5 linked regions of the Homo sapiens genome follow. The protein of the gene in region 4 interacts with the protein of the main gene of each other region in a pairwise test. Each region holds a gene or a part of one and is shown on either strand. Other genes may lie near its edges.

Region 1 (4,241 bases), on a different chromosome or scaffold from region 4:
AATCCTAGCACTTTGGAAGGCTGAGGTGGGAGGATGGCTTGAGCCCAGGAGTGTGAAGCCAGCCTGGGCAACATAGTGAGACCCTACCCCAAAAAAGGTAAAAAAAAAAAAAAAAAGGAATAATAAAAAAAATTGACTAGGGCTAATAAGTACGGGATAGACGAGAATAATATTTCTTTTTTTTTTTTTTTTGGGGACAGAGTCTCGCTCTGTCACTCAGGCAGGAGTGCAGTGGCGCAATCTCGGCTCACTGCAAGCTCTGCCTCCCGGGTTCACGCCATTCTTCTGTCTCAGCCTCCCGAGTAGCTGGAACTACAGGCGCCTGCCACCATGCCCGGCTAATTTTTTGTATTTTTAGGAGAGACGGGGTTTCACCGTGTTAGCCAGGATGGTCTCGATCTCCTGACCTCGTGATCCGCCTGCCTCGGCCTCCCAAAGTGCTGGGATTACAGGCGTGAGCCACCGCGCCCGGCCGAGAATATATTATATTTTTCTTGTTATTCATTCAACAAATAGGAACACAGTACCTACTCTGTTGCCACATCTATGCCAGCCCTGTTTCAGGGGTGTTGGGGGAGATGAAATCAATAAAATATGATGTCTACTTTCAGGGATGGATTTCATGCCCCAGGCAGCAGAGTAGGAAGAATGACTATAGTCTCAGTAGCTGCTGGTTGGAGCCTGCCATCACTTCAGATGGGGTTGTTCCCCAGAAGAGGCAACCCGCATACCTTCCCAGGTCCATCCTGGGCTGCCACCTGAGTTGCCTGTCTTCCTTCTGCCACCTCCACCCCTATCCCAGGCCTGCCACTGCTCATAGCAGATTTCCTATCAAAGGCTCTCCTGGCCTCCTCTCTTATCTGTGGCCCCCGCAGGGCACCCACTTTCAGAAACTCCCTGGAAGGCCCAGCACCTGCCTCTCTCCACCCCTGGATTTCTACCAGCTTGGCTGAGGCCTGGGGCTAGTGGGGAGAGCTTCTTGGCCTCTTCCCAGAGGCAAGGGAGGAGGAGGGAGGCTGGGAAAGCCGCTGGGGCTCAGTGTCGCAATTCCGGGCCGTGCTGGGACCTTTGCTCCACGAGGTGCCTATGGAGGGGAGGGAACACGATTCTGGAGGCTGCTGGGATTGGGGTGGGGGTTCCTGGGAGGCAGTCCTTTTGCAAGAGCTGCTAAGAGCGCTGGGTAAGGAGAGGAAGGGGAGAGACATGGAACTTGGCTGGTCTGCAGGGAAATGCCACTGTTTTGGCCGGGAGTAGGGGGCGGGAGTGGCGGGAGAGGGGGTGGCCGGCTGGGGAGGAGCCAGCCTGGTGGAGAAGCTGCCCTGTGGGCGGGGGTGAGGAGGGGAGGGCTGTGGTCACCAGGCAGGAAGGAGGGGTGGCCTGACCCCTCGGCAGTCCCTCCCCTCAGCCTTTCCCCAAATTGCTACTTCTCTGGGGCTCCAGGTCCTGCTTGTGCTCAGCTCCAGCTCACTGGCTGGCCACCGAGACTTCTGGACAGGAAACTGCACCATCCTCTTCTCCCAGCAAGGGGGCTCCAGAGACTGCCCACCCAGGAAGTCTGGTGGCCTGGGGATTTGGTGGGTCTGCTCCTTAGCAGTGGCCTGGGGCTCTGTGTGTGTATCTGGGGTGGGGTCGGGGAATGTCCTAAGGATCTGAGAAGGGGGTTTCTGGGGAGAAGTGAGGGGTGATGGTGATGGAAGCTTGGGACAGGAGCAGGACTCTGGGTCCCAGAATAACTCATGAGGGGCTCAGGGGAGGAGGTCCTCTATGTGAATTGGGGAGATTCTTGGAGACAGGTTTGTGCTGGGACCCTGGAAAGTGGCACGAGCGAGGTTCTCTAATAAGCAGCGTGTTTCACTGGGTGGAGTGAGCTGTCCTCAGTGTTGGAGTGAGGGGGAAGGGGCCCAAGAGAAGCAGGGCAGATGCACCCAAACATTCCCTGCTGGCCTGGAGGGGACTTTGGGGGAGAAAAGCCGGCACGGTGGCTGGGAGCCCAGACTTTGGAGTCAGAGGAGGGTTGGAGTCTTGACTCTACCGCCGCCTAACTGTGTGACCATAGTTACTTAATCTCTTTGAACCTCAGTTTGCTTATCTGTAAAATGAGTTTAAGAATAGTCCTGAGCCAGGAGCAGTAGCGTGCGCCCATAATCTCAGATACTCAGGAAGCTGAAACCTGATTGCTTCAGCCCAGTAGTTTGAGGCGATAGTGTCCTATTATTGCACCTGTGAATAGCACTGAGTTCCAGCCTGGGCAACATAGAGAGACCCCATCTCAAAAAAAAAATTAATAGTTTTGACCTCAGAGGGATATTATGAGGAAAGCACATAAAGCCTTATAACAGGCTGGGCGCAGTGGCTTACTCCAATAATCCCCACACTTTGGGAGGCCCAGGTGAGAGGATCACTTGAGCCCAGGAATTCCTAGACTAGCCTGGGCAAAATAGGGAGAACCTGTCTCTAAAAAACATAATAGTAATATAATAAAGCCTTAGTACAGGCTAATATATGGCAAGTAAATGTTAGCTGATATTGTTGATATTGATAAAAGGGAGGATCAGGTGGAGAAGGGAGCTGAGGCCAGAAAGGAGCCCAGTTCTAGAAGAGTATAATCTGGGTCCTTCCTGCAGGACAGTGCCTTGGTAATGACCAGGGCTCCAGGAAGAGATGTCCTTGTGGCTGGGGGCCCCTGTGCCTGACATTCCTCCTGGTAAGCTTCATTCCATCCCTCTCCCCTGAGCCCAGACCGCAGGCTCCACGCCTCCTGTAGGAATCAGCCTCCTTCATTACCTGCCTTCTTCCTTCCTCCAGAGAGCAGTCCAGAGTCATTCTTAGTCGTGCTTGCCTCCCGCCCAGATCACCTCTCCCCTGGTTCCAGTGCCTGGCCCTTGCAGGCACCCGCCCAGTCCTCCCCAGTCTGGATTTGCTGCTAGAGAGTTGGCCAGCTGAGTGCTTACCCTGCTCTGGCTTTGAAGAGTTTTATCTGATCTCTGAAATGCATACACTCCAGCCCCCCAAAGGGACAAGGATTAACATCTTCATTTAAGGTCCTGAGATGTAAGAAACTACAAGTGACTAGTCCTAGCTAGAGCCCACACAGACTCTAGGGTCCCAAAGCCTGAGCTGGGACTTTGCTGCCCTCTAAGGGTGGGGATAAGTTTGCAGTTTCCCAGCTAGGACGCTGGGCCGTGGAGCCGGGATGGGGCCTGAGACCCCCTTGTGCCTCTCTTTTGGAGCTCAGACTCTGCGGTGGAGCTGTGGAAGCCAGGCGCACAGGATGCAAGCAGCCAGGCCCAGGGAGGCAGCAGCTGCATCCTCAGAGAGGAAGCCAGGATGCCCCACTCTGCTGGGGGTACTGCAGGGGTGGGGCTGGAGGCTGCAGAGCCCACAGCCCTGCTCACCAGGGCAGAGCCCCCTTCAGAACCCACAGGTGAGGAGCTTCTGGGTTTGGAGGAGGTAGGGGTCCAGATTCCAGGTCCTGGATCTGGAAGAGGTTCCTTGGGGGTTTTTACTTTATATATAATCTCATGGTTAAGTTCAGAGGCTTTAGAGCTAACTAAATCTGACTGATCTAAGTGTGAATTTTGTCTCTAGGCCTTTCTGAGCCTCACTTTCCTTGTTTATAAAATGGAAATAAAAATTATGGTTGTCATAAGGATCAGTGCATATAAAAGGCTCATACAGTACCTAGAACATAATGGCACTTGGCAAATGAGGGCTACTCTTCTCATAAAAGAGAGACTGGAGTTTGTATAATGAAGGGAATGAAGGTCACTGAGTGCCCAGGGCAGTGGCTGAGTCAGGGAGAACATGATGTTTTTCCTCGGGGGAGAGCGTTGAAGCACTTTCCTGTATCCAGAGATCCGTCCACAAAAGCGGAAAAAGGGGCCAGCCCCCAAAATGCTGGGGAACGAGCTATGCAGCGTGTGTGGGGACAAGGCCTCGGGCTTCCACTACAATGTTCTGAGCTGCGAGGGCTGCAAGGGATTCTTCCGCCGCAGCGTCATCAAGGGAGCGCACTACATCTGCCACAGTGGCGGCCACTGCCCCATGGACACCTACATGCGTCGCAAGTGCCAGGAGTGTCGGCTTCGCAAATGCCGTCAGGCTGGCATGCGGGAGGAGTGTGAGTTTCTGGGGCTGGAGTGGGGAAGAGGCTGAGGGGAAAGAGGGGGCCAGGGTGTGACCCAAAACAGGTGCCTGAACTTGCAGGGGCTAACTGATCCCTAAGTATGGATCCCAGTATC
Region 2 (3,517 bases), on a different chromosome or scaffold from region 4:
CATCTCTTGAGTCATGTCTGAGAAGTGGAACTGGGCACAAAGGAAACTAGATGGATAAAAGTGAGTAAGTCAGTGCAGATCTGTTACCCTATTGGGAAAAAAAACCAAAAACCATCTCAAGCTTCATCTTCTACTCCTCATATGACTGCATCTCTATACCAACTACATCTTTCTTTATTCAAGAAAATTGCTGTCTGCCAAGATTCATCCAAGCATGAAGAAATTCATCAAGGTGAAAATGGGCTTAAATTCTCAACAAGTATCTTCTGTGTGTGTCAGCTTCTGGATGCAAACTTTTAGGATCTGTTTTTCAACACACCACCAGAGGAGTACTTAAAAATCAGTAAGTCAGAAAGATAAATCCAAAAACACAAACTCCTCTTTTAAAAAAAGGAGAAAAAAATATTAGAAGGGGTGTTTTTTAATATTCAGAATTTTTTTGCTCCCTTCAGAAAAGTCTTAGTTAAGGTTAAATTATTTTTCTAAATCAACATTGCATGGATTATGTTACCATTGATTAACTATTTTTGCTAGCTTTCTTCTTGCTGTACTTCAATTATAGCATTGGATGTATGTTGAACATGTCAATTACAGAATACAAACCAAAGGCTTTTTTTGTTTTTATTTCTTTTCAACATCTCACTGGCCTGGCAAGAGTCAATGAGTCACACCATCGATCTCCACATTTGCCCTTTGCTCTACAAGTGTTGTACTCACCATGAGGAAATACCCAATAAGCAGAACAGGCATTAAGAGGATAATTAGTAGATAATCAATGAAGGTAAATTTTTTCTTCACAGCATAATGCAAGCAGGTTCTCTCTTTCTAAAAATTAAGAAAAGGATTCTTTACTAATAAAGCATTTCAATTCAAAATTTATTCAGATGGCCATCTCAAAAAGTTTAGTTTGTGCTTTTTGTTTTTCCGGTACCCATGGCATCTTTTCCTGTGGGATACATCTGATTACTGAATGCGGCTTTCCATGGAGCAGAACAGAGAACTCGGTCCAGTGTAAAGGAAAAGCTAGGGAAGGGCTCCTGGGAGTCAACAAAGGTGAAATGTACACAGCAGAGCTCATCAGAAGACAGATTCTTATACCCACTTAGTTTTTGGAAAAAAAGATACACTGAGATATAAACTTAGGACTGAATTTACTATGAAAATTGATAGTTATCCCTTAATCATCTACCATGTGTACGATTATCCATTTTGTGGTTTGTTCATAGGAAAACTCTTAACCACATGGCTGTTTTTCATGTTCCTTCATGTGCATAGTCTAGAAGAATGCATATAACTCAATTTTATTCTTCAAATATGTGAATACTTATCAGGTAATAGATGTCAGCTTCCAAGGGTTGTGGGAGATGTGAACTCTTAGGGCCTCATAATCAAAGATGGACAGAAATATGCACAAATAAATATAAGGCAAAACAGAAGGTGGTAATTGGAATACCAATCAAATCAGTAAGAGGAGAGGGAGCCCAAGAGAAAGAAAGGAGGTTAGTTTCCACTTATGCAAGGCACTGTACCTAAATAAGAACACTTTTTGTTTTTCTAATATGAAGGCATTTATATTTTCTGTAAAAAAATTTTAGAAACTAGAGAGGAACATAACGATAGAATTTTAAATTGCCCATTATTATATTAAATGGTCCAGAGTTAACTGTTGACATTTTGTTGTATTTTCTTCCAGTCTTCTTAAATGCATAAATGTGGAATTTTGAAATGTAGAATGATATTGCATATGCAATATCATATCTTGCTTTTTTCAGTTCAGAAACGTATATTTAGAATATGTACATTTTTCCATGCAATTCAATATTTTTAAACATATGATTGTAATGGCTGCATGGCTTAGTATTGAGTGGAACTACTCTGATGTATTTAGCTAAGCCCTGCCTTTTGAACATTTCATGGTTTTTGAGGGTTTTGTTTTTGTTTTTGTTTTTCTGTGAGACAGGATCTTGCTTTGCCACCTAGGCGGGAGTGCAGTGGCACAATCCTAGCTCACTGCAGCCTTGACTTCCTGGTCTCAAGCGATCCTTCAACTTCAGCCTCCAAAGTAGCTGGGACTACAAACATGTGCCACCACACCTGGATAATTTTTTACTTATTATTATTTTGTGTAGAGATGCGGGGGTCTTGCTATGTTGCCTAGGCAGGTCTTGAACTCCTGGTCTCAAACTATCCTTCCACCTTGGCCTCCCAAAATGCTGGGATTCCAGACATGAGCCACTGCACATGGCCCGTTTCAAGTTTTAAACTTTTCATTTTTATAAATAATATTGCCTGAACCTGCTCATTCATAAATTTTTGTCAACATTTCCAAATTTGTCCTTTGCCTACATTTCTAAAAATAGAATTCCTGGCATAAAAAGTATTAATGCTTTTCATATTGCGCTATCAAATTGTGTTCTAATAAGACAATAATAACTTAAACTTTCTGATCAACATTTGTTTTCTTTTTTAATCTTGGTCAGTTTGACAGACAAAAACAAGGATCTTTATGTTTTAATTTAATTTGCTATCAATAGAATCCATAGGCTTGTGCTTCTGAATCTCCAGCAGAGCTTTTTGTTTGTTTGTTTGTTTTTAAGGTGTTTGTTTGTTTAGTGTTTCTGGAAATAATTTATAAACAGATTTCAGACATGAGAAATCACAGGTTCAAATTATTAATGTACAAATATTAATATTTGGAGAAAATAAAAATATTAAATGCTAACATTAGAAACATTTGAAAGTGGAAAATGCAAACCAAAAACTTCTACTGATAAAATCTATTAATCTAATGTATCCACTAAAGTCTTTTTCATGGTTTTTATGATACCAGAAAATCCCAGCAGGCTGGCTGAGGCCCTCCTCTTCTGCAAAGCGGAGATAAAAGTGTCTCCTCAGCCTTGCCCATGGGCTAACGTCTCCTCCCTCAGTTTCCTAACGAGCGCACCTCTTAAAAGAGCGCAGGAACCCACAGACATCTGTCTTCTGGCACTACCACTCACTGCAACTCCACATATCTGGTTTCACAGCAGTGATCTACAGAGATCCTATTATAGTCCACGATGTTGCATATCTGTTCCATTCAGCACAGGCATGACTTGCTTTTAATCGCAACCAAACCAAAAATAGTAAGCATAAATAAAAAAGTCCAGTAATGATCAATTTTCTGATAATACATTGTTACTCCTGATGAGCTAGTCTCCAAATGACTTAGAAGGGGCAAGGGGGGATTTCCAGTGTTTTCTCGCCTTGAATGCATATAAGTGGGTACAGGACAGTCATAATGATTGCAAAAAAATGGCTTAATATTTATTCAGTGTAATTTAAATATTGCCTTCACTACGATGCAAATGCTAGATGTTCAGAAAGGGCTCCACAAGGATTTTCACAGCAATACACACATATTCTTCTCTTTCTTGGTCCTGAAGGCTCCAAAGTAGCTAATATTGCATCTTTAAATATATTCTTTACACCTTTTTGTGTGACTTCAAGTAACCTCTGGCTCATGAGCTTATTTGTC
Region 3 (3,517 bases), on a different chromosome or scaffold from region 4:
GTACTTTAGCACTTTAGCTATATTCTTCCTGGTCTGCTCAGAACAACCACTCTGAGATAGGTACTGGCAGCAGTTCCATTTCATAGGTGAGGGATGGAGGCTCTGAGATTCCGGGTAATACATGCAAAGCCAGCGAAGCTGGGTGGTGGCTCAGGTGTGTCTGTTTAAAAAGCCCATTCTAATTGCTGTGCTCCAGTCCCCACACACTTTGGTGGCGGCAAGGAGCTCTGGGGCAGGGTGTGTGGTTGAGGCTGGAAGGAAGGCAGAAAAGAACAGGCCTAGGGCCCCCGCTTGCACACATTCTTGCCTGTGCTGGTCTCAACTTTGCTGCTTCCCATGTTCCCACATGCCACTCTCTACTGAATCCCATCTCCCCGCAATTCAGAAAAAATAATAATCTGTGTTTGGTGGATTAAAACAATCTGTTCACCCGAATTCTTTTTTCTGATTCTTGAAATAATGTTGACATAGAGTAGTTCTTTCCTCGTTTTGCAAAGGGAACATAGCTGCTCAAGATCACACCACTGGTAAGTGTCTTGGGATATTAAACACATGGAATTTTAAGATTGGCAGGAGTGAATTCTTCATCTAGTCCAGTGTTTCCTAAACTTCAGTCATTTGCCTACGACTGTGATAATTTCACTCAATCCATATACTACGAGCACTATTATTTACTTAAAATACTTAAAAAAATCATCAACTCCCTTTTTGTTTTAACATAAATATGCTAATTAAAAGGAAAACTTTATATTAGCAATATAAATGGAAAGTCAGGATTTTTTAAACATACATAAAAATAAATATTTAAGCATTTGAATAAAAATGGTTCATGCGCCACCTAAATCAGGGGTTAGCAAACTACATCCTATAGGCAAAATGCAGTCCCTCACCTATTTTTGTAAAGCCTGCAGTTAAAAATAATTTTACTGCTGGGCGCAGTGGTTTACACCTGTAATCCCAGCACTTTGGGAGGCCGAGGCGGGTGGGTCACTTGAGGTCAGGAGTTCAAGACCAGCCTGGTCAACATGGTGAAACCCCCGTCTCTACTAAAAATACAAACATTAGCTGGGTGTGTTGGTGCATGCCTGCAATCCCAGCTACTCGGGAGAGTGAGACAGGAGAATCGCTTGAACCTGGGAGGCAGAGGTTGCAGTGAACCGAGATTGTGCCACTGCACTCCAGCCTGGGCGACAGAGCAAGACTATGTCTCACAAAAAAATAAAAAATAAAAAATAAAAAATAAAAAAAACTTTACATTTTTAAGTGGTTACATTTTAAGTGGTTATATAAATATTTACATCATATCCTTGATTTTGCCTTTTGGCCTGCTAATCCTAAAATACCTGGCCCTTTAAGAAAAAGTTTGCAACCCCTAACCAGATTCATCTGGCATGTTGCCAGTTGATGTGAGTACCACGTGTTGGAAGATACTGAGTTAGTCCAATTTCCCTCCTCGCCTCCACCATTTTACAGTTGAGGAAGTTGAGACTCAGGGAATTTGTGTAACTAGCTCAAGGTCACATAGCCAGTGGATGCCAGAGTTAAGTGGCAGGGAGGTCCTTAGTTTTCTGACTCTCAGCCCATCTGCTTCTCTTTCTGAAAACACAATTGAGCCCCAAGGCACACTTATATAGCAAATCAAACCTCAGTACTAAGAGGGGCAGGATTGTGTGATTCTGAAACCAAAGGTCAATTCTTTGCAGATGCTTGAAAATCTCCAACCACCATCATCATCACCATCAAATGTGCATGAGACGCCGGGTGCGGTGGTTCATGCCTGTAATCCCAGCACTTTGGAAGGCCAAGGTGGGCAGATCGCTTGAGGTCAGGAGTTCGAGACCAGCCTGGACAACATGGCGAAACCCCGTCTCCACTAAAAACACAACAATTAGCTGGGCATGGTGGTGCACACCTGTAATCCCAGCTACTCAGGAGGTTGAGGCATGAGAATCACGAACCCAGGAGGCAGAGGTTGCAGTGAGCTGAGATCGTGCCACTGCACTCCAGCCTGGGTGACAGAGTGAGACTCTGTCTCGAAAACAACAACAACAACAACAAAAACGTGCATGAGAACTCCTCTCCAGATGTAAATATATAACCGAGTTTGAATTCTGACACTTAGGCACCTTTTCTGGGCCATCACCCAAGAGTTTCCAGACTCTGCTGGGAAGTCTCTTTGCTGATGCCTGGAGAGGGTTAATGTGCTCTGCAGATTATCGTGGGCATGGATCTCCTCCTGGGAGCCCAATCAAACAGATGTCAAGGCTGCCTGGGTTTGGGCTGTGATTTTCCCACGGATTGGCTGGTTTTATATCCTGAGTGAGGGGGGCAGGGAGGGGGTAGGATGCTGAGGGATGGGGTGAGAGGTTATGAGGAAGGGAAGGGCCTCAGGAGCTGAAAGCCACTTCTGCTTTCTGGACTGGACTTCAGAAAAGTTCCTTTAAGTGAGGGCTGAAGACAAATATATCCCTTTTCTTCTGGGCCAGAAGGCTCAGAAAACTAAAGAAGAGGATGGCAGGCCTGTGATATGACCTTCTTTGGGTTGGGAGAAAGGAGAGGTGAATTCCACACGGAAGAAAACAGAAAACAGTCCCCAGGTCTTCAGTGTCAAATAAGGAATCCATCAAATACAAAACACGACAGTGGGAATGAGATCTTCCTCATCTATGCCTCACTAATTGCTCTCAAAAGTCATTGGGTATTAACAAAAAAAAAGGTCATTTGGTAAATTGAATGGCATTATATAAAAACTAGAAATATTTTTTGATCAATAGTATTTTTACCTCTTTTAATATTGTTATTCTTTCTCCTCTTTATACCGGCCTACTCACTTGATCTGTAATCTCTCTAGTGCTATACACAATGCTGTATCTGATTCCCTTTGGTAATTCCTTCTAAGGCAAATTATATCCATTAAGTTTTTGTAAAGGGCCTTCTCAGGTGTACAGCATGCTATTTTTCTTCTGTAATTATTTCTTGCTTTTGGAAAAAATATCTTTTATAAAAGCAGAAAAAGGTGTTTTTTTTTTTTTTTCCTGTTACAGCAGGAGTGGGTGTTATTAACTCTGGGCTCTCCACAAAAGACCTTGGCTACTTAGCCAGCATGCAGTAGGTGTGAGAGTTCAAGAATAATGGCTGCTTTGTATTCAGTAGCCTCTCTTCTCTAGGCCCTCTAAGGTCCTTGCAATAATTGAACATTTTAGCTCTTAAGGACTTCTTTAGTGGAGGTAGAGCAGGATAGGTGTGAAAAGGCAGATGTCCAGAGCCCCCTTTCTCAGAAGTAACACTGAGGCCCAGGGATATGTGAACACAGGCCTGAGGTTAGGCCAGGCCTGCTCAAGGGGGGTGATATTGCCCCCCTCTTTAGGGAACAAAGATGAGTTCTTGGGGATCAAAAAACTGAGTTATTAATTACAGTGTTTTATCATGCTCCAAAGGTCTACAGTAGATGTATAGTTTATCTCTGGTACTCACATTTCTGGTGGGGAGATGATTAAGAAAAAATGACCTAAAAAGT
Region 4 (3,517 bases):
CATATGACAGAAGATAGAATAATGAAAAGGAACTGCTGGCATCACTTTCCCCATAATATTACATAAAAATGGACAGCACATTAAATAAACATTCTGTTATTAATCATTAAATATATTAACACCAAAAATCATGTATAAATTAGGAAATAAATGTACAAACTATTTTGCAAAGTGCTTTTTAAAATATATACACAACATTCAAGATATTCTTAATGTAAGACATTTCAGATTGAAGTTTTGGGGTAAGTGTCCTTTTCTTTCAGAAAGTATTATTAATACAGCACTTAAAAAAACACACAAACACACAAAAAAGGCATATTCCCAGATTGGCAAGGAATAAAAATAAACTATCTTCACAGTTATCTAAAATGTTTAACATTTTCAGTGGGAAATTTTAGTCCCCGATTGAGTTTGCAAATTAGGTCTATGAAAATTGACAGGAAAAGAACACAATCAAGGGAGATGACTCCCTAACTGAAATTGCTAACGCGTTTGTCAATTAGCAATTAAGAACTCTCATTTCGGTGATCGAATATGAACACATACGTTTATTTTTGAGCCCTTACCAGTGTTAAGGGTTTTAGAAACCCTTAGTGCCTACAAAATAAACACTTCTCTCCCCATTTGTGCGTGACATCCGTCTCCTAGGAGAGGGGAGAATGTCCTAGAACAGGACTGGTATTCAACACAGGCAAGTCCTTTAATCTGTGCCTCAGTTCTTCATCTCTAAAATGGGAACTGTTACCTGCCTCCAGATTTCCTCATAGGGGCTGTCAGAATTAATTCAAGCAAAACACATAAGTGACTTATAAATTCTAAAGCACCCGACTCTGGATAAAGAATTAATTTTAACTTATTTATTTATTTATTTATTTATTTTTTTGAGACGGAATTTCACTCTTGTTGCCTAGGCTCGGGTGCAATGGTGCGATCTTGCCCCACCACAACCTCTGTCTCCTGGGTTCAAGCCATTCTCCTGCCTCAGGTTCCCGAGTAGCTGGGATTACAGGTATGCACCACCATACCTGGCTAATTTTGTATTTTTAGTAGGGACGGGGTTTCTCCATGTTGGTCAGGCTGGTCTCGAACTCCCGACCTCAGGTGATCCGCCCGCTTCGGCCTCCCAAAGTGCTGGGATTACAGGCGTGAACCACCACGCCAAGAATTACTTTTAACTTTTAAAACAAAACATCAATTAAAGAGAAATATCGTTATTACTAGGCCTCATATATCAAGCATTGGATATCTCTTGTATTTTCTTGGTAGTTCTTGGAAATCTGTCAGCATTTATCCAAAGATTTTTTTAAAAGGATTCATAGCAAATATGAATATTATTATTCCAACTAAAGGTTGATCAAATGTCCATGCTACTTGTTAATTGAAATGTGGGATTTTTTTCCTTTGACCATACTTTTGCAAGTGTGCTGTCTTTAATGTTCACACAGAATTTAAATGGGATTTAATGTCTTAGAAATGTAAAAATTACTCAAGTTTCTCTATATAAAACCTTTACTTTTCATTAGAAAGAACACAGTAATGTAACTGGATGTGACTTTCAGACATCCCTAAAAGAAAAGAAATGCTTGCTTGGAGATCTGAGCAAGTAGGTCCTGGAAGAAATAATATAAAATAAACAACTTGCCAACTGTTGGGAAGATTTGGTTTGAATATTTAAAATTACCTATCAACTTAGAATTGGGCTTATTAAATATTCCAATCCCAGAAATGACCATCAGCTAAACAAGGGTCAAAGCCAGAGTAATCTCTGAGGGCCCACTTCCCAGAGAGCTGCCCCTTTCCTTCAGCAATACCGCTGGCCCTGGGTTAGGCAATTTGTCCACGGCCCTTAGGGATTCATATTTATTTGGAATACAGTCACTGATCCCTGTTTACTTTTTAATACAAAAACATGTACCTTTTTGGATAAACGGAATTGGCGAGAGACAGGCAATGGGCAAGCTCTGGAAGTGGCCATCTGTGGCCTCTCCCGTGGGAGATGTTTATCCTTTTCGTTACGTAACAGAAACTGACCCAACGCACAGAAGATGCCCTCCCACCCACCCCATCGAGGCACAGGAAGAGGCTGCCCTCCAGGGGCTGCATGTGTGTCCAGCTGTGGCGTAGCCAGTTAAAGAAAAGTTGACAACCCACACTACAACACTGCATGAGGAGGAAAATGAGACCTAACGTCTGTTGACGGGAACAGGTGGACTGTGGTGTCCTCGAGATCTGTCCTGTCCCTGGGCACAGAATGCTCTGATGACAAAATGACCCCCAAAGCTAGCTAGAAACATTGAGAAGGGGGCGGGGGACAAAAAAAGGATACCTCTCCGTGTACCGACATACAATACTATACACAGCACCAAAAGTATCACACCACCAAGCGCTGTCTCACGCCAGTGGTGTGCGCTCGGCGTCATACCCAGCATGAAATGAGCACGCTTCACATGCAGACGTGGCACTGGGCGAACAGGTAACCAACATGTCACAATTCACCAGAGCTGCCGCCAGCCCATCCGGCCCCTGGATGAACACGCTACCACAAGGGCTCCAGCCAGAATGTGTGTCCCTTACTGCTGGTAATTTCCATACTGGCCCTAAAAGAGATCAAGACACAGATTACACCCCTATAGTAATGAGTGAAAGGAAGACAGACGTCCACCCCAGCCCGGACAGGGGGTAGGAGGGACAACAGCAAGCAAACAACCTCTGCTCACATCTCTGCGGGGCAGCGAACGACTTTCCAGAAGCCACTGGCCAAGCCTGGGGCTAACAACGTAGACAGGGCCAAAGGTTCATTTGTTCAGTCACACACTGGCATCGCTGCGGCCGGGCCTGTGCCAGGCCTGGCATCAGAGCCTTATGCTGGGCCTGCTATGCAGGAAGGCTCTCCTCCAAGCTGGCCCCACTGGGAGCCAATGCAAACACCATCTGCCCCCGAGCCTGCTACAGTAAGAAAATGGGAGCGGGGACGACCAGGGTGATGGGTTTCAATCTATAAAAAAAAATCTAAAGACCCAGGCTGGGCAACATGGCCAGACTCCATCTCTACAAAAATCCAAATATTAGCTGGGTGTGGTGGCGTGTGCCAATAGTCCCAGATACTTGGAGGGTGAGGTGGGAGGATCGCTTGAGCCCAGGAGGTCAAGGCTGCAGTGAGCCGTGATTGCACCACTGCACTCTAGTCTGGGTGAGACCCTGTTTCAAAAACAAATCTGAATTTGGGAGGCCGAGGCAGGAGGACTGCTTGAGCCCAGGAGTTTGAGACCAGCCTGGGCAGTACAGCAAGACCCCATCTCTACAAAAAAAGAGAAAAAATTAGCCTCGGCCAGGCACAGTGGCTCACGCCTGCAATCCCAGCACTTTGGGAGGCCGAGGTGGGTGGATCATTTGAGGTCAGGAGTTCAAGACCAGCCTGGCCAACATGGTGAAACCCCATCTCTACTAAAAATACAAAAAAAAAAATTAGCCAGGTGGTAGTGGCACGTGCCTGTAATCCCAGCTACTTGGGAGGCTG
Region 5 (3,517 bases), on a different chromosome or scaffold from region 4:
TAACTTTCTTCCTGCCTCCAGGTTCACCCACCCATCCTTGATGCTAGGTTCTGGTGTACCTGGTCACCCAGCAGCCATCCCCCACCCGGCCATTGTGCCCCCCTCAGGGAAGCAGGAGCTGCAGCCCTTCGACCGCAACCTGTGAGTGAAAAGACAATGATGGCAGGGGGTGTGTCAGTCAGGATACACATGCCTCCCCACCAGGCCTGAGGACTGCCACGAGGTCCCTGCCTAAGCTGTTTCGTGCCTCTGGCTATGTTTTTGATCCTCAGAAGTAGGAGGGGGTGGGTGGGATGGGGAACAAGGATTTTTCTGAGCCAACAGAGGAGGGGCTCAGAAGTCCTTAACACATGCTTTTCCCACTTGTCTGTAGTGTTCCTATAAGGAACAGTTACTTAGCTGTCTGCTCACCCATTTGGGGGCAGCTAGGAAAGATTCCACTTAGAAAACTCTGGTATCATACACTTAGGCACACTCTAGGCCCACGCTAGAGGAGGAGGCTGCAATTAGGTGGGCACTCGGGGGGCTCCTGAACAATCTGGATTTGTGCCCCTCAGGAAGACACAAGCAGAGTCCAAGGCAGAGAAGGAGGCCAAGAAGCCAACCATCAAGAAGCCCCTCAATGCCTTCATGCTGTACATGAAGGAGATGAGAGCCAAGGTCATTGCAGAGTGCACACTTAAGGAGAGCGCTGCCATCAACCAGATCCTGGGCCGCAGGGTGAGACCATGGGCAGGTGGGCTGGCAGGGATGCTCCCCGACCATCTTCAGCCTGGTGCAGCCTGCTGACTCCCTGATGCACCCCACCTGCCCCTCTTCCCTGTTGCAGTGGCACGCGCTGTCGCGAGAAGAGCAGGCCAAGTACTATGAGCTGGCCCGCAAGGAGAGGCAGCTGCACATGCAGCTATACCCAGGCTGGTCAGCGCGGGACAACTACGTGAGTGCCTAGTGACACACAGCAGGGGTGGGCAGGGGACCCTTTGAGATACCATGCCCCAGGCCACAATCTCAGTAAGGAACGCAGAACTACTGTCCTGAAGGCACCGATGAGGAAGGGCACGGAGGGTCCAAGGCCTCCCATGGCTGCCTCAGAAGAGGACAAGCCCACATCCTATTCTCCACTCCAGAATATGCTCACACATGAGCTGTTACCCAACATTTGATTGGGCCACATGGGCAGAAGGGGAGAAAGGGGTCTGGAAGTCACCTCCTTCCATTCAAACTGGAGACCAGATTGGGGTGAGGGAAGAGCTTCTAAATGCACTCCATAGCAGCCTAGCAAGACCAGCAATCAAGAAACACCAGCACCCCAAGGTAGGAGGGGCCTGTACGCCCAGAATCCCAGGGTTACCCAAGCTAGGCAGCAGGCTGTGGGTATCCCAATGTCTGCCTCCCAGATCTGAGCATCCCTCCTTTTGTTCCCTGCAGGGGAAGAAGAAGAGGCGGTCGAGGGAAAAGCACCAAGAATCCACCACAGGTGAGACCTTCTCTCAGCAGCAGTGGAGGCTCCTCTCCATGTCCCCATTTCAAGAGCAGCCCTCCTCTGACCCAAAGGGAGGAACGCGGTACCCAGCTAGGAGCCTTCAGGGCCTGGGGCCTATGAAAACAAGGCCTGCATCTCACAAGTCAAATTCCCATGCAAGAAACAGCTATATTATACTAAGTCCCAGGGAAACCCAGCAGAACTGGCTTCTGCTGGGTAGAATTGGAGTAGATGGTGCGTTCCTCTGCCTTGCACCCACTACCTTTGCTAGCTCCACTCACCAGAGAAACCAGCAAAGAACTGACTGTATGGTTTGATGCTTAGCCCAAACAATGTCCTGGCTAGTTCTGCTGAGACTGGGAGAGGCTGAGCTAGGCCCCATGACTAGGCCCAGTAGACACACAGCCTACTGGCTGGAGCCTGGCAATTTATCACCCCCACTTCAACATTTTTCATGGCAGTGCAAAGTGCTCTATGTAGAGAAGCCCACACCCTGCTGCAGGCCTCCTTCCTAAGGGTGAATTCCTGCCTCTCTGGTAACTGAGACTCCACATCCCTGACCACCTCAGCCGTGCTGTCCCCACACAGGGAAGCTGGAGGCTAGGACTGGGACAGAGCAGGGCAGAGTTCCTAGCCCTTTTTCCAAGGCAAAGAATAGGCCCTTCCTTCCATCTGCAAGTGTGTAGAACAGCATAAGGTATAGCCTTCAGCCTTATCCCTTGAAGGAATGTAGGTCAAGAATGAAGAAAAACTGGATAAAATGGGTAGGGAGTTGGGGAGGAGGTGGGTGGCCCTAGGGCATAAAAGGCTGGATCTCCATGGTCTTCCTTGGGCCCCTCTGCAGCCTCCATGCTGCAAGGGCCCCACAAGCCACAGAGATGAGCCAGATTGACAGGACTCCCTCCCTCCCATTCTTCCCACTGCCTCTACTGCGTACCTGGGTGCCCACCTTTCCTGATATCTTGGCTCTGGGCTCTTGGGCTCCCACTGGGGCTGGCTGTGCCATGGAGAGGCCCACTCTGCCTATGGGGGCTGTAGGGTGTCTATAACTGGCTAACACTGATGTTACCTCTTCTTTCTGGGCCCTGCTCTGCCCCGCTGCCTGCTCGCCCTCTGCCCTGCTCTACCCCTCTGGCATGGCTGTGAGCAGACCCTGGCTCGCCTAAGAAATGCCGTGCTCGCTTTGGCCTCAACCAGCAGACGGATTGGTGTGGTCCGTGCAGGTGGGTTTGTCCCCACCATCGTTCTCCCTTTGCTTTAAGCTGCTTCCCTGACTCTGCACATGTTCCACTGGGCCTGCAGCCCACTCCTTTGGCCCCTCAGCCCACTAGCATACTCAGCAGATTGGGAGCCCAGGCCTCCTGAGAATAGTAGTAAATACTGAACACAGCGCGTGGAGAAGACCACTTGGGTCTAAGTGCAGGAGGATTGGAGAGAAAGACACAGAATGTTCCAGAAAGGAAGGACAGACTCAAGAAGGCAGCTCTGATGCCAGTGGGCCTAGCAGGTCCTCAGCAAACAGACAGCTCAGCCACCACTAAGGGGGCCTGGAGCCCATTCTACCAGGCCTCAAAGTCATTATGGCCCATGGGCTCCCTCACTTCCTCTTCAAGATGGGATCCCTGCCTGTACCATCCTGAGCCCTTAATCTGAAAAAGCAAGGTGACAACAACACAGAACCATCTGGTTGCCAGGTAGCCTTATGACTTGCTATCTTGTACCTACTGATACCAAAGGGCTGGAGAGGCTGGGGGAGAGGACCCAGGGGGTACCCTGGGCTGTCTGAGGGAAAGGGCTCATGTGTTTCACCATACAACAGAGAAATACTTGTGGGTGTGACAAGGTTTACCCAACAAGTGGTTAAAGTTTCCTCAGTCAGTTTCAGGCCAGGCCTGGCAGGGCTAAGATAGAGGGTACTCCAGGCAGTAAGGCCACTGGCTCTAAGGAACACTTGTCCAGCCTCTCAGTGTACCCACCACACTCCCTGTCCAAGGGCAAGGAGGAGTTTGGGGTGTGTCTGTGTATCCACATACA

Evidence for each region.
Region 1: the proteins of SS18L1 (region 4) and NR1H3 interact in a two-hybrid assay, tested with the Homo sapiens proteins (one large-scale study listed by BioGRID and IntAct).
Region 2: the proteins of SS18L1 (region 4) and ANKRD22 interact in a two-hybrid assay, tested with the Homo sapiens proteins (one large-scale study listed by BioGRID and IntAct).
Region 3: the proteins of SS18L1 (region 4) and ELF5 interact in a two-hybrid assay, tested with the Homo sapiens proteins (one large-scale study listed by BioGRID and IntAct).
Region 5: the proteins of SS18L1 (region 4) and TCF7 interact in a two-hybrid assay, tested with the Homo sapiens proteins (one large-scale study listed by BioGRID and IntAct).

What each region holds. Positions count from the first base shown.
Region 1 is NC_000011.10:47,256,556-47,260,796, forward strand, and holds the start of NR1H3 (oxysterols receptor LXR-alpha), read left to right. Parts: upstream 1-1,440; 5' UTR 1,441-1,574; exon of another isoform or gene 1,575-2,624; 5' UTR 2,625-2,661; coding exon 2,662-2,704; intron 2,705-3,230; exon of another isoform or gene 3,231-3,235; coding exon 3,236-3,424; intron 3,425-3,853; coding exon 3,854-4,120; intron 4,121-4,241. UniProt on the Homo sapiens protein: Nuclear receptor that exhibits a ligand-dependent transcriptional activation activity.
Region 2 is NC_000010.11:88,827,842-88,831,358, forward strand, and holds part of ANKRD22 (ankyrin repeat domain-containing protein 22), read right to left. Parts: intron 826-3,517; coding exon 718-825; intron 1-717.
Region 3 is NC_000011.10:34,507,293-34,510,809, forward strand, and holds part of ELF5 (ETS-related transcription factor Elf-5), read right to left. Parts: intron 1-3,517. UniProt on the Homo sapiens protein: Transcriptionally activator that may play a role in regulating the later stages of keratinocytes terminal differentiation. Isoform 2 binds to DNA sequences containing the consensus nucleotide core sequence GGA[AT].
Region 4 is NC_000020.11:62,178,262-62,181,778, reverse strand, and holds part of SS18L1 (calcium-responsive transactivator), read right to left. Parts: intron 2,598-3,517; coding exon 2,571-2,597; 3' UTR 1-2,570. UniProt on the Homo sapiens protein: Transcriptional activator which is required for calcium-dependent dendritic growth and branching in cortical neurons. Recruits CREB-binding protein (CREBBP) to nuclear bodies.
Region 5 is NC_000005.10:134,142,164-134,145,680, forward strand, and holds part of TCF7 (transcription factor 7), read left to right. Parts: intron 1-21; coding exon 22-141; intron 142-557; coding exon 558-720; intron 721-829; coding exon 830-937; intron 938-1,428; coding exon 1,429-1,477; intron 1,478-2,633; coding exon of another isoform or gene 2,634-2,848; exon of another isoform or gene 2,849-3,517. UniProt on the Homo sapiens protein: Transcriptional activator involved in T-cell lymphocyte differentiation. Necessary for the survival of CD4(+) CD8(+) immature thymocytes. Isoforms lacking the N-terminal CTNNB1 binding domain cannot fulfill this role.